Regions from separate parts of the Homo sapiens genome. Here all the other regions are reported to be linked to region 1. The links are microRNA targets in miRTarBase. Many come from high-throughput screens and were not tested one by one. Region 1 holds a microRNA gene; each other region holds the end of a gene's coding sequence.
The links. Region 1 holds the annotated microRNA hsa-miR-6838-5p (AAGCAGCAGUGGCAAGACUCCU, at 873-894, shown strand). A microRNA usually pairs through its seed, bases 2 to 8, with sites in the 3' UTR of a target mRNA and lowers its output. Matches are read on the target gene's strand: a 7mer-m8 pairs with bases 2 to 8, a 7mer-A1 pairs with bases 2 to 7 and ends in A, and an 8mer does both.

Region 1 (3,125 bases):
GGGATGTGGCCTGGGGCTGGAGTGAGCAGGCCGTGTCCCTGAGTCAGAGTCAGACTGACGCCCTCAGGGGGAAGTTGCAGGGCCATGACGTGGACTTCCTCATCACCCACCCCAAGGAGGGTCAGGAGGCGGGGCTGCTGCCTAGAGTGATGTGCCGCCTGCAGGACCAGGTGAGGGCCTCCCTGCTCCCCAAGAGCCACCGCTGGCCAATGCCACTGCCTCCTGCTCTCTCCACACCACCGGATGGTCTCAGCCACGCCCGCCTCTCCCCACAGGGCCTCATCCTGTACCACCAGCACCAGCACAGCTGCTGTGAGTCCCCTACCCGCCTGGCCCAACAGAGCCACATGGACGCTTTTGAGAGAAGTTTCTGCATTTTCCGCCTACCACAACCTCCAGGGGCTGCTGTGGGGGGATCCACGAGGCCCTGCCCATCCTGGAAGGCCGTGAGAGTGGACTTGGTAGTTGCACCCGTCAGCCAGTTCCCTTTCGCCCTGCTCGGTTGGACTGGCTCCAAGGTAGGCAGTGTGCCGCTGGGCCGCCTGGGGGTGGGGCTGGGCCAGCCCTGCTGAGGACAATCCCTTCCCTACAGCTTTTCCAGCGGGAGCTGCGCCGCTTCAGCCGGAAGGAGAAGGGCCTGTGGCTGAACAGCCATGGGCTGTTTGACCCGGAGCAGGTACATTGTTGGGGACTGGGGACAGCAAACAGCACCCATAGTCCGCTCCCTGACCCACAATCTGAAATGGCCCCAGACCCCTCCAGCCTGAAACCCATAGGACCCGAATCTGGGTCTCCACACACAGTTCCTGGCCCTCAAGAGCACACCCCACCTCGGCGCTGGGCTCTTCCCCACCCTCAGTCTTCCTGCAGGGAAGCAGCAGTGGCAAGACTCCTAGGTCACGGAAGTCCTGCTTCTGTTGCAGAAGACATTTTTCCAAGCGGCTTCAGAGGAAGACATCTTCAGACACCTGGGCCTTGAGTACCTTCCTCCAGAGCAGAGAAACGCCTGAGCCTGCCTGTGTCCCCCACTTCCACTCAGGAAATTGGGCTGCCCCCAACCTGGCCACTGAATGTCTCCAGGCAGATATGCTGCCCCCTGACCCCCACCTTCACCCCTCCCCGCCAAGGCCTGGCTCTTCCGGAGGTCAATTGTGCCTGCAGGATCAGTTGAGCCCCTGCTGGTGTGCTGCAGGGTGTGATGAGGTGGGAGCCCTCAGTGCCAGCCTCATCACTGTGTGACCCTGGGTCTGCTCTTAGCCTCCCCATGGCTCACGTTCCTGCCCTGGATGGGATGTGAGTGGGGCCCACATCGTGGAGCTGTGGTGGGGCCTGCAGTCATGAATGGCAAGTGGTCCCTGATGTGCAGTGTCTCATTAGTTGCACTGCAGTTAACTGTGGCTCCTGCAGGGCACCCTGCCCAGAATGCCCAGAAGAGAACCATGCATACCTGCACTGCATTTGAGAGCCATGAGCTGGAGGCTGTGGTTCGTGCCAGCAAGGAGCCTACTGTCTGGTGTGCTGTAGGCATCTGGAGAGGGAGAGGGCCTGGGTAGGAGCTGGGAGGAAGATAATTTTCAACTATGGGGCTTCAGTACTGCAGCGCCCCGAGCCAGGCTCTGTGCTTCTGCCTTTAAGGCCTGTTCTCAGCACAATGTCTCAAAAATAGGTCATATCCTGCCACTCCCGTCGCAGAGCCCTTTAATGGTTCCAAACCCTAAGTCCACACATAGCCCCTGGCTCTGGCATCTCTCCAGCCCCACTGGCCCCGAGCTGCTTGACTCACCGGCTTCCTATTTGATGCACCCAGGCCCCCTTGTGGCCAACTCCCTCCCCTTCTCACTGAGGCAGAAGCACTGAGGTGGGCTGGACATGGGTGCCCTCCACGTCCCTCATATCCCCAGGCACACTCTGGCCTCAGGTTTTGCCCTGGCCATGTCATCTACCTGGAGTGGGCCCTCCCCTTCTTCAGGCCTTGAATCAAAAGCCACTTTGTTAGGCGAGGATTTCCCAGACCACTCATCACATTAAAAAATATTTTGAAAACATGCAGTAAAGTTGACTCTTGGGGTGCAGTTTTTGCACACGTAGGGCACACCAGGTCCATCCCCAGAACACTTCCCATGCTGTCCTATTGTGGTCATGTGCTTCTCCACCCCCACCCACTTAGCGGTGCTACATCCCTATAGTTTTGCTTTCTCTAGAATGTCATGTAAATAGAACCAAACTATATTTAACCTTTGGACTGGCCTCTCCCCACAGCCTAATGCCTTTGACGTTCCTGCAGGTTGCTGGGTATGTTGAGTTTGTAATTTGTTCCATGCCATGGGTGTTCTACAGTTTATCCATTCAGGTGTTGAATGTCTGGGTTGTGGCCGGATGCCGTGGCTCATGCCTGTAATCCTAGCACTTTGGGAGGCTGAGACGGGTGGATCACTTGAGGCCAGGAGTTTGAGACCAGCCTGGCCACCATGGCGAAACCCCATCTCTACAAAAAATACAAAAATTTGCTGGGCATGTTGGCTCATACCTGTATTCCCAGCTACACGGGAGGCTGAGGCATAAGAATTGCTTGAACCTGGGATGCCAAGGTTGCAGTGAGCTGAGATTGTGCCACTGCACTCCAGCCTGGGCGACAGAGCAAGAGTCTGCCTAAAAAGAAAAAAAGTCTGGGTTGTTTCCAGGGTTTGGAGATGATGAATCGTACTGCTACAGACATGCATGTACAGGTTTTCGTGTAACACATGGGTCTTCATTTCTCTTGGGTAAATAGGCACAGGATTACTGGGTCATTTGGTAAGTATATGTTTATTTCATAAGAGCCAAGTTGTTGTCCCGAGTGCGTCTGTCATTTTGCAGTCCACCAGCGTTGTGAGCACCCCTGTAAGTTAAACACCACAGTAGGCAGTTGCTCTGTATCCCTGTCAGCACTTGATAGTTGCAGTATTTGTTAACTTTAGCTTTTCTAGTAGTAGGTACATAACAGTAGCTCACTGTGGTTTTATTTTCATTTCCCTAATGCCTGATAACGTTGAACATCTGTTCACTGGCTTCTATGTCCTCACTGGTGAAGTGGCTGTTCAAGTCTCATTTTTAAAAATGGAATTGTTGGCCAGGCATGGTGACTC
Region 2 (3,000 bases), not on the chromosome of region 1:
GGCATGTCAGGCCTTAAGCACAGGCCTGGTTGGGTTTGGGGGGTCTGCAGTGGTGGGGGACCCTGGGGGACCAGGGGCTCATTCTCCCCCCCACCTTGCCTGCAGCCCAACTGCTATGCCAAGGTGATCACGGTGGAGTCACAGAAGAAGATAGTCATCTACTCGAAGCAGCACATTAACGTCAATGAGGAGATTACCTATGACTATAAGTTCCCCATCGAGGACGTCAAGATCCCCTGCCTCTGTGGCTCCGAGAACTGCCGGGGGACCCTCAACTAGGCCCCGGCACCAGACTCAAAGGATGTCAGCCGTAGCCCTGGGACTCCCGAGCGTGGAGCCCCTGGCCCCGGGGCCCGGCCCCCCGCGCCCGCCCCCATTTCAGGTGCTGTCCTCTACCCAGCGGCCATTCAGGGCCTGGCGCCCCACACTACCCCCTGGAGCCCCTGGCTCCGGCCCCTCCGCGGGAAAGGGCTTCTCTGTCGTTCAGCCCACGTCTCTCTCATTTTAACAAACGCCCCTTTCAGGATTTCTGTTTAACTCCAGCATCAGCTTCTCTCTCTCCGTCTCTCCTCCCCTCTCTCTCTTCTCTGTCTCTTCTCTCTCCCACCATCACCCTCGGCCTCTTCCTGTGAATGCTGCTACGTTGTTTTGTCTTCTCTATTTTTTTCCTCGTTGTGAGAAAAGACATTTAACCGTTGAAATGTGAAGGTGGAATCAGAGAGGGGCCCCGCGGGGGTCTGCAGAGGCCTCAGTGTGGCTGTGCGTGGCCCGTGTCCTGGAAGCCACCCGGACCTGGACGCAGGGCCAGGTGCTGTGGGAAGGATGGAGGCCCCCACGGCCTTGACCTCAGAACACTACGCCCTGAAAGCGCCCCTCACTGCCCGTGGGCACAGTGAGGAGACCCCACACCTTTCCCCACCCGAGCTGCAGCCTGTTCCTTCCCCAGAGGCCTGGGGCACCACTGACCCGGTGGACCCTGATGGAGCTAAGCTGTCCCAGGCAGGGGTCTCCGCTCTGGGCTTTCCCTGCCACCTCACACCCCAGCACCCCCTAAACCTTGGGTTCAATGTTTACTTTCTCATTCGGATGCCAGCAACGCGGGAGCCTCTCGGAGGCCCCAGTGCAGGTGAGGGGCGCTGAGAACGCGGGCAGCCACTCTCTTCTGCCCTTGCCTTCGCCCTGGGTGGGACAGGGCTCCCAAGGGCAGGCGGGTCCCCCAGTCCCGCCATTACGGGTTGTCAGACCGTCTGCGTGTGGCATTTTTTGGCTTATAAGCTTCACCCACTCACCCCCAACCCACACCCCACATCCCCCTGCCGGCAGCCCCTCAACCTAAGAAGGCCAGAGCATATTTATTTTCGGAGGGAGCAGATTACTTCTCCCAGAGAAAGGAAAATCTTGGAAAAGATTTAAAAACACAAATCTAAGCCTTGACGGTTTTTTTTTCCCTTTTGACCCCCTTCCCATCTCTTCAGAATTTATTCCCATGGCTTTTTTTTTTCTTGTGCGTGTATAAAATCAAAAGGAAGGGGAAAAAGGTTTTTGAAGTTCAGAACCAACTTCTGTATATAGAGGCTGCCGCAAAGGACTTTCTCTTGGGAACATTGTTTCTTGTAGAAACATGCGGGAAGACATTTTTTGCTCATTTCTTTGTACTTCCAAAAAAAAAGGAAAAAAAAGACAAAAGCAAGTCCCCCCGTACCCCAGAAAGCAGAGGAGGCGTGTAAATAATTTCTGGAAAGTGACTGTTGTGACCCGGAGTCCTCATCAAGATGAGCGCGCTCCATGAGGGAGCTGCTCCCACCCTGCGGACGCAGGCGGCCGGAGCCTCTGGTATCTCAGCTTGTGTCAAGCTTGTTATCATGTAAATTCTGTACAAAGAATTGTTATTTTTCTCTTTTTTGTTGTTGGTGGTTTTGTTGTGTGTTTTTTGTTGTTTTTTTTTTATTCCTTTCCCCCAGGCCCTCTCTATTTGAGACTGTGCCCGCCGGTTTCAAGATCAAGGAAATTGGTGGCAACAAGACACAGATGGGGTACCTGGGCACAGCGGCGAACTTCTCTTCCGTTTGCGGTTTTCTGCCTAATTGTGCAACTGAGGAAATAATTTATTTTTCACATGAGGAAATGCGTAGCTTGTAGAGACGGCTGATTCAAGTTACATGTACAGCCTCCAAAGGGCTGTCTCCATTCTGTCCCCTTCCCATAAAAGAAGTGGGGGTGTTCGAGAAGACCAGGGAAGGGACCCTTGCCTCACCCCTCCCCCTGGCCTCACCTTGCTCCCAGCCATCGTGCCCAGTGTTAACCTCGGCTGGCCTTCACTAAGGGGACTAGACCTCCCTCTCCCCAGGAGCCCCAGCCCCAGAGTGGTTTGCAATAATCAAGATATGTGTCGAGTCATTTTTCTTTCAACTCCCTCATTTTTCATTGAACAAATCTCTGCTTTTCAAGAGTTGGGGGTTTCTGCTATTTTTTGCTTTCTCTCCCTCCCCCTGCAAAGATGAGAACCAATGAGTTTTAGGGATGTTTGTGCGGGTAGACTCCATCATCCATATGTAACTTGTTTTGAAGAGAAGTGTTTCCGTTGTGTGTCTTGATGTAAATATTTGTTCATATTTTTGTGAATTCAATACTATGTACCATTGTATTATAGTAACTTTTATAAAGCAAACCATAAATATACTGACTTTTCTTACAGATACGCCGTCTCTCTTGCTCTCCTCTCTCCCTCTCCTCTTTATTCTTTCTTTCTGTTGGGAGCACATCCTGCTTCTGTGGAGGGTGGAGTGGTCCACTCAGACACTCAGATCAGCAGGGGTTTTTTTGTTTGTTTTTGAGACAGGGTCTCACTCTGTCACCTCAGGCTGGAGTGCAGTGGTGCAATCATGGCTCACTGCAGCCTTGACTTCCTGGGCTCAAGTGATCCTCCCACCTCAGCCTCCTGAGTAGCTGGGACTACAGGAGCACACCACCATGCCCAGCTAATTTTTAAGAAATTTTTCT
Region 3 (3,000 bases), not on the chromosome of region 1:
GTGCACTGGCCTGAGGAAGCTTTGCACGCTGGTGCACACAGCCGGCACAGACAGCTGTCACACGCACAGATCACAGGTGCACAGAACGAGTGCTCTTTGTGAGCTGGGGTGTGAGGCCATTCACTTCTCTTTTAAAAGAGATTGATTTATCTAACTTTGCAGAAGTCAAAGAAAAAACATAAAAACATACTAGTTGAAAGAAGAAAGGGAGAGAGAACGGGAGGGAGGGAAATGAATGGGGGGCTTGTGTATCCTGAAATGGTACTTTTTACTTGCAGCTCTGATCAAAGGCCTGTCGTCCCTTCATCGAGGTCCAGGTTTGCCTTTTCCGTGTCTGTGCTGGACCTTGACCTCAAGCCCTACGAGAGCATTCCCCATCAGTATAAACTGGACGGCAAGATCGTCAACTATTATTCAAAGACTGTACGTGCCAAAGACAACGCCGTGATGTCGACTCGGTTCAAGGAAAGCGAAGATTGCACATTAGTTCTCCACAAGGTCTAACTCTTTCCCTGCAGTGTCTTTGAAACTTGAACATAATGTGAAGGCTGAATGATAGAGATATTTTCTGTTGTGTTGGGTGACCTTTGGTTGTGAATGTTTTTGCTTTTAACCCCTTTTGAGGTGGGATTGCCTCTTGGAGACATGGAATTGAAGAGCACTAGAAACAACTTCCTGGACAAGGAATGTAGGAAGTGAGTGCTGTGTCCCAGGAAGCTGCTCACACTCTTAAAATGGAAGTGTCCGTTAAGCCCTGGGAAGACGTTCTGGATAGTTCTTCTTTCCCAACCAGGGCTCATGTCTGATTCTCTAATGCGAAAAGCCTTATTCTAAGACCCAAGGTTTGGATCTGCTACCACCAGACTCCTAACATAGAAAACTTGAATTGTCACATACATTTTACAGTTTGGACTTTTAAGAAAACATGGATACTACTGGAACTTCCCCCAGCTGAGTTACATGGTCACTTTTTCAGTGCAAGCCACATATCAACACAGGTTTTTAGGTGGTTCCCTGCTGCACAGCGTGACCTCGTGGTCGCGCAGATGCCGATTCTGAGCAGTGTAGACTCAGGGTCCCTGTGGAGGTGCTGAAGCCCACAGTTCCACACAGGGCAGCAGGGAGCGCAAGGCTCAGGTCAGGATGGACACCACTCATGCGAGCATTGACCTTTTTTTTTTTGCTTTACAATTTAATCTTTCACATGAGGGGGAGATGAGCTGTTCTTTCCCACTAAAAATTGCTGCTGTAGAAGTTGGAGGTGGAGCTGTGACTGGCTGAGCTGCTGTGGCCGGGCTGGGCAGTGTGCCCCAACAGCTCAGTGCTTTCCTGACACTCCAGTGTCTGGGGTGGTTGAGGAGCGAGTTCTCTCTTCCTCCCAGACCAAGTTCCTCCCTCGGGTTTGCCTTGAGACGTGTTGCGTTTTTGGGCCCCGTGGCCTCTCCCTGTTAGGCTGCCACAGGCCCTGCTTCTGGAAGGTGAACAGCTCCTGGCTGCTGCCGAGAGGGTTCTCGTTGGGGTCACCAAAGTGTGCCCGGCTGCTATGAAAAACGTTGGGAATCTTGGTTTCAGTTTTTTATTCTATGCTAGGTTGTACAGACTTATTTATATCATCGTTTTGAGGGACTAATGGAGGCTTATTGTAACATATAATATTAGTGAAACCATGGAATTATATGAAAATGATACATGAGAAATAAGGAAACTATTTTGCTGATTGTAAATTTTTGTGGGAAATTTTGTGATAACTTGAGAATTATACTTGTTTGAATCAAGGCAACTCTTCTAGAATTTATTGTTCAATTCTGTCATATTTACTTCTAATTCTACTCTCAGAGGTGCAAAAAGATACTTATCTAACTGGACACTTTTACTGTTTTCTTCTCACTTCCAATGACACCGTCTCATACACACGGGTCCTGTGTGCTGGGATGGGGGCTTTGGTGAAGTGCACGGAGCTCACGGACAAGCCGCAGGCTCTGGGAAGCGTGGAGGTAGTGGCCGTTGAGTACTGTCTTGACCCAAGGGAGTTCACTGTTGCTGGGCTGGGGCTGGGGCAGCCTGGTTTGGGATGATTTTGCCCATTGTCACGGTGTGTGGAGGATGCTGGGTCCTGGGTTCAAGTGCACATGTGAGGGAACCCCAGTCCGTGGGAAGGTGGGCTGGGCTCCCTAGGTCCTTCAGGGCTGCAAGAGTTATTGCCTAGCACAGGGCCCAGACAGGGCTGGACTAGACACGATGAAAACAGCCTGTATTTGAGGGAGAAGAGAAAACAGATGGAGACCCCCACTCTGTCTGGTCTTGGCTCCCACCAGCCCGGGCTGTGAGGAGCCCCTGAGCCGCGGGTGCCACTGCTGTGGATGCGTTTCTGGCCCGTCTTGGAAACTGCTGCTGCTGCGTAGTCATGACGGCCCTGACTGGTTTGAGACAACACGCGTTCACAGATCTTAACAATGCTAAATGGGCGACTGATGAGGTCACGGTTCTTAAGGCACATCCGGGACGATCGATATAGCACTTAGGCTATGCAGGGGGGTCTTTCTTTCATAAAGGACCTCATTCCTTGCGTCCCAGCCCAGGAACAGTGCTGTCTTTGCTGTCTTAGGCCATTCTTGTTATTAAGCTGACAGCTTCACTTTCTTGTGGAAGACCAAGAACAGCATGAGGACTTGCTGAGACTGCCTCACGGTGCCACCATGCGGACCGGGGGGAGGCAGGGAGTGAGGGTGTGGCTCCCCTGGGCTACTAAGGACAGTTTAAAGATGAGGCGCCATAGGCATCCGTCTCCAGAGCCCCCAGGAGGCAGGAACCAGGATAAGGGTGGCTTCTCCCAGCTGAGTAATGTGGCCACCATGTCCAAGGTGGACTCGGTGTGAGGCTGCAGTGGGTGGGGGATGGATCCTCCCCACACATCTGAGGACACACAACCACTTGGTACATTTTCTCAGATGTTAAGCTTATTTTTATAAACCACATTGTACGTGTCACTTTTATTTGGCA

Region 2: the mRNA of SETD1B is a reported target of hsa-miR-6838-5p. Seed matches in the 3' UTR shown: 8mer at 634-641.
Region 3: the mRNA of IPPK is a reported target of hsa-miR-6838-5p. Seed matches in the 3' UTR shown: 7mer-m8 at 1,242-1,248, 7mer-A1 at 1,538-1,544, 7mer-m8 at 2,387-2,393 and 7mer-m8 at 2,390-2,396.

What each region holds. Positions count from the first base shown.
Region 1 is chr7:44,071,176-44,074,300 of GRCh38, reverse strand. It overlaps MIR6838 (microRNA 6838), which reads left to right and starts at 868; the gene lies at 868-923. It overlaps POLM (DNA polymerase mu), which reads left to right. Exons shown (of 11, transcript NM_013284.4): 8 at 68-170; 9 at 276-518; 10 at 593-676; 11 at 924-2,239. The coding sequence ends at 1,010. RefSeq lists an enhancer at 3-202.
Region 2 is chr12:121,829,961-121,832,960 of GRCh38, forward strand. It overlaps SETD1B (SET domain containing 1B, histone lysine methyltransferase), which reads left to right. Exons shown (of 17, transcript NM_001353345.2): 17 at 106-2,696. The coding sequence ends at 279. Among named protein-coding and RNA genes, the nearest start is that of TIALD, 25 kb to the right of the region's middle.
Region 3 is chr9:92,613,336-92,616,335 of GRCh38, reverse strand. IPPK (inositol-pentakisphosphate 2-kinase) reads left to right here. Exons shown (of 13, transcript NM_022755.6): 13 at 279-3,000. The coding sequence ends at 504. CENPP (centromere protein P) reads right to left here. Exons shown (of 8, transcript NM_001012267.3): 8 at 1-3,000. Among named protein-coding and RNA genes, the nearest start is that of IPPK, 55 kb to the left of the region's middle.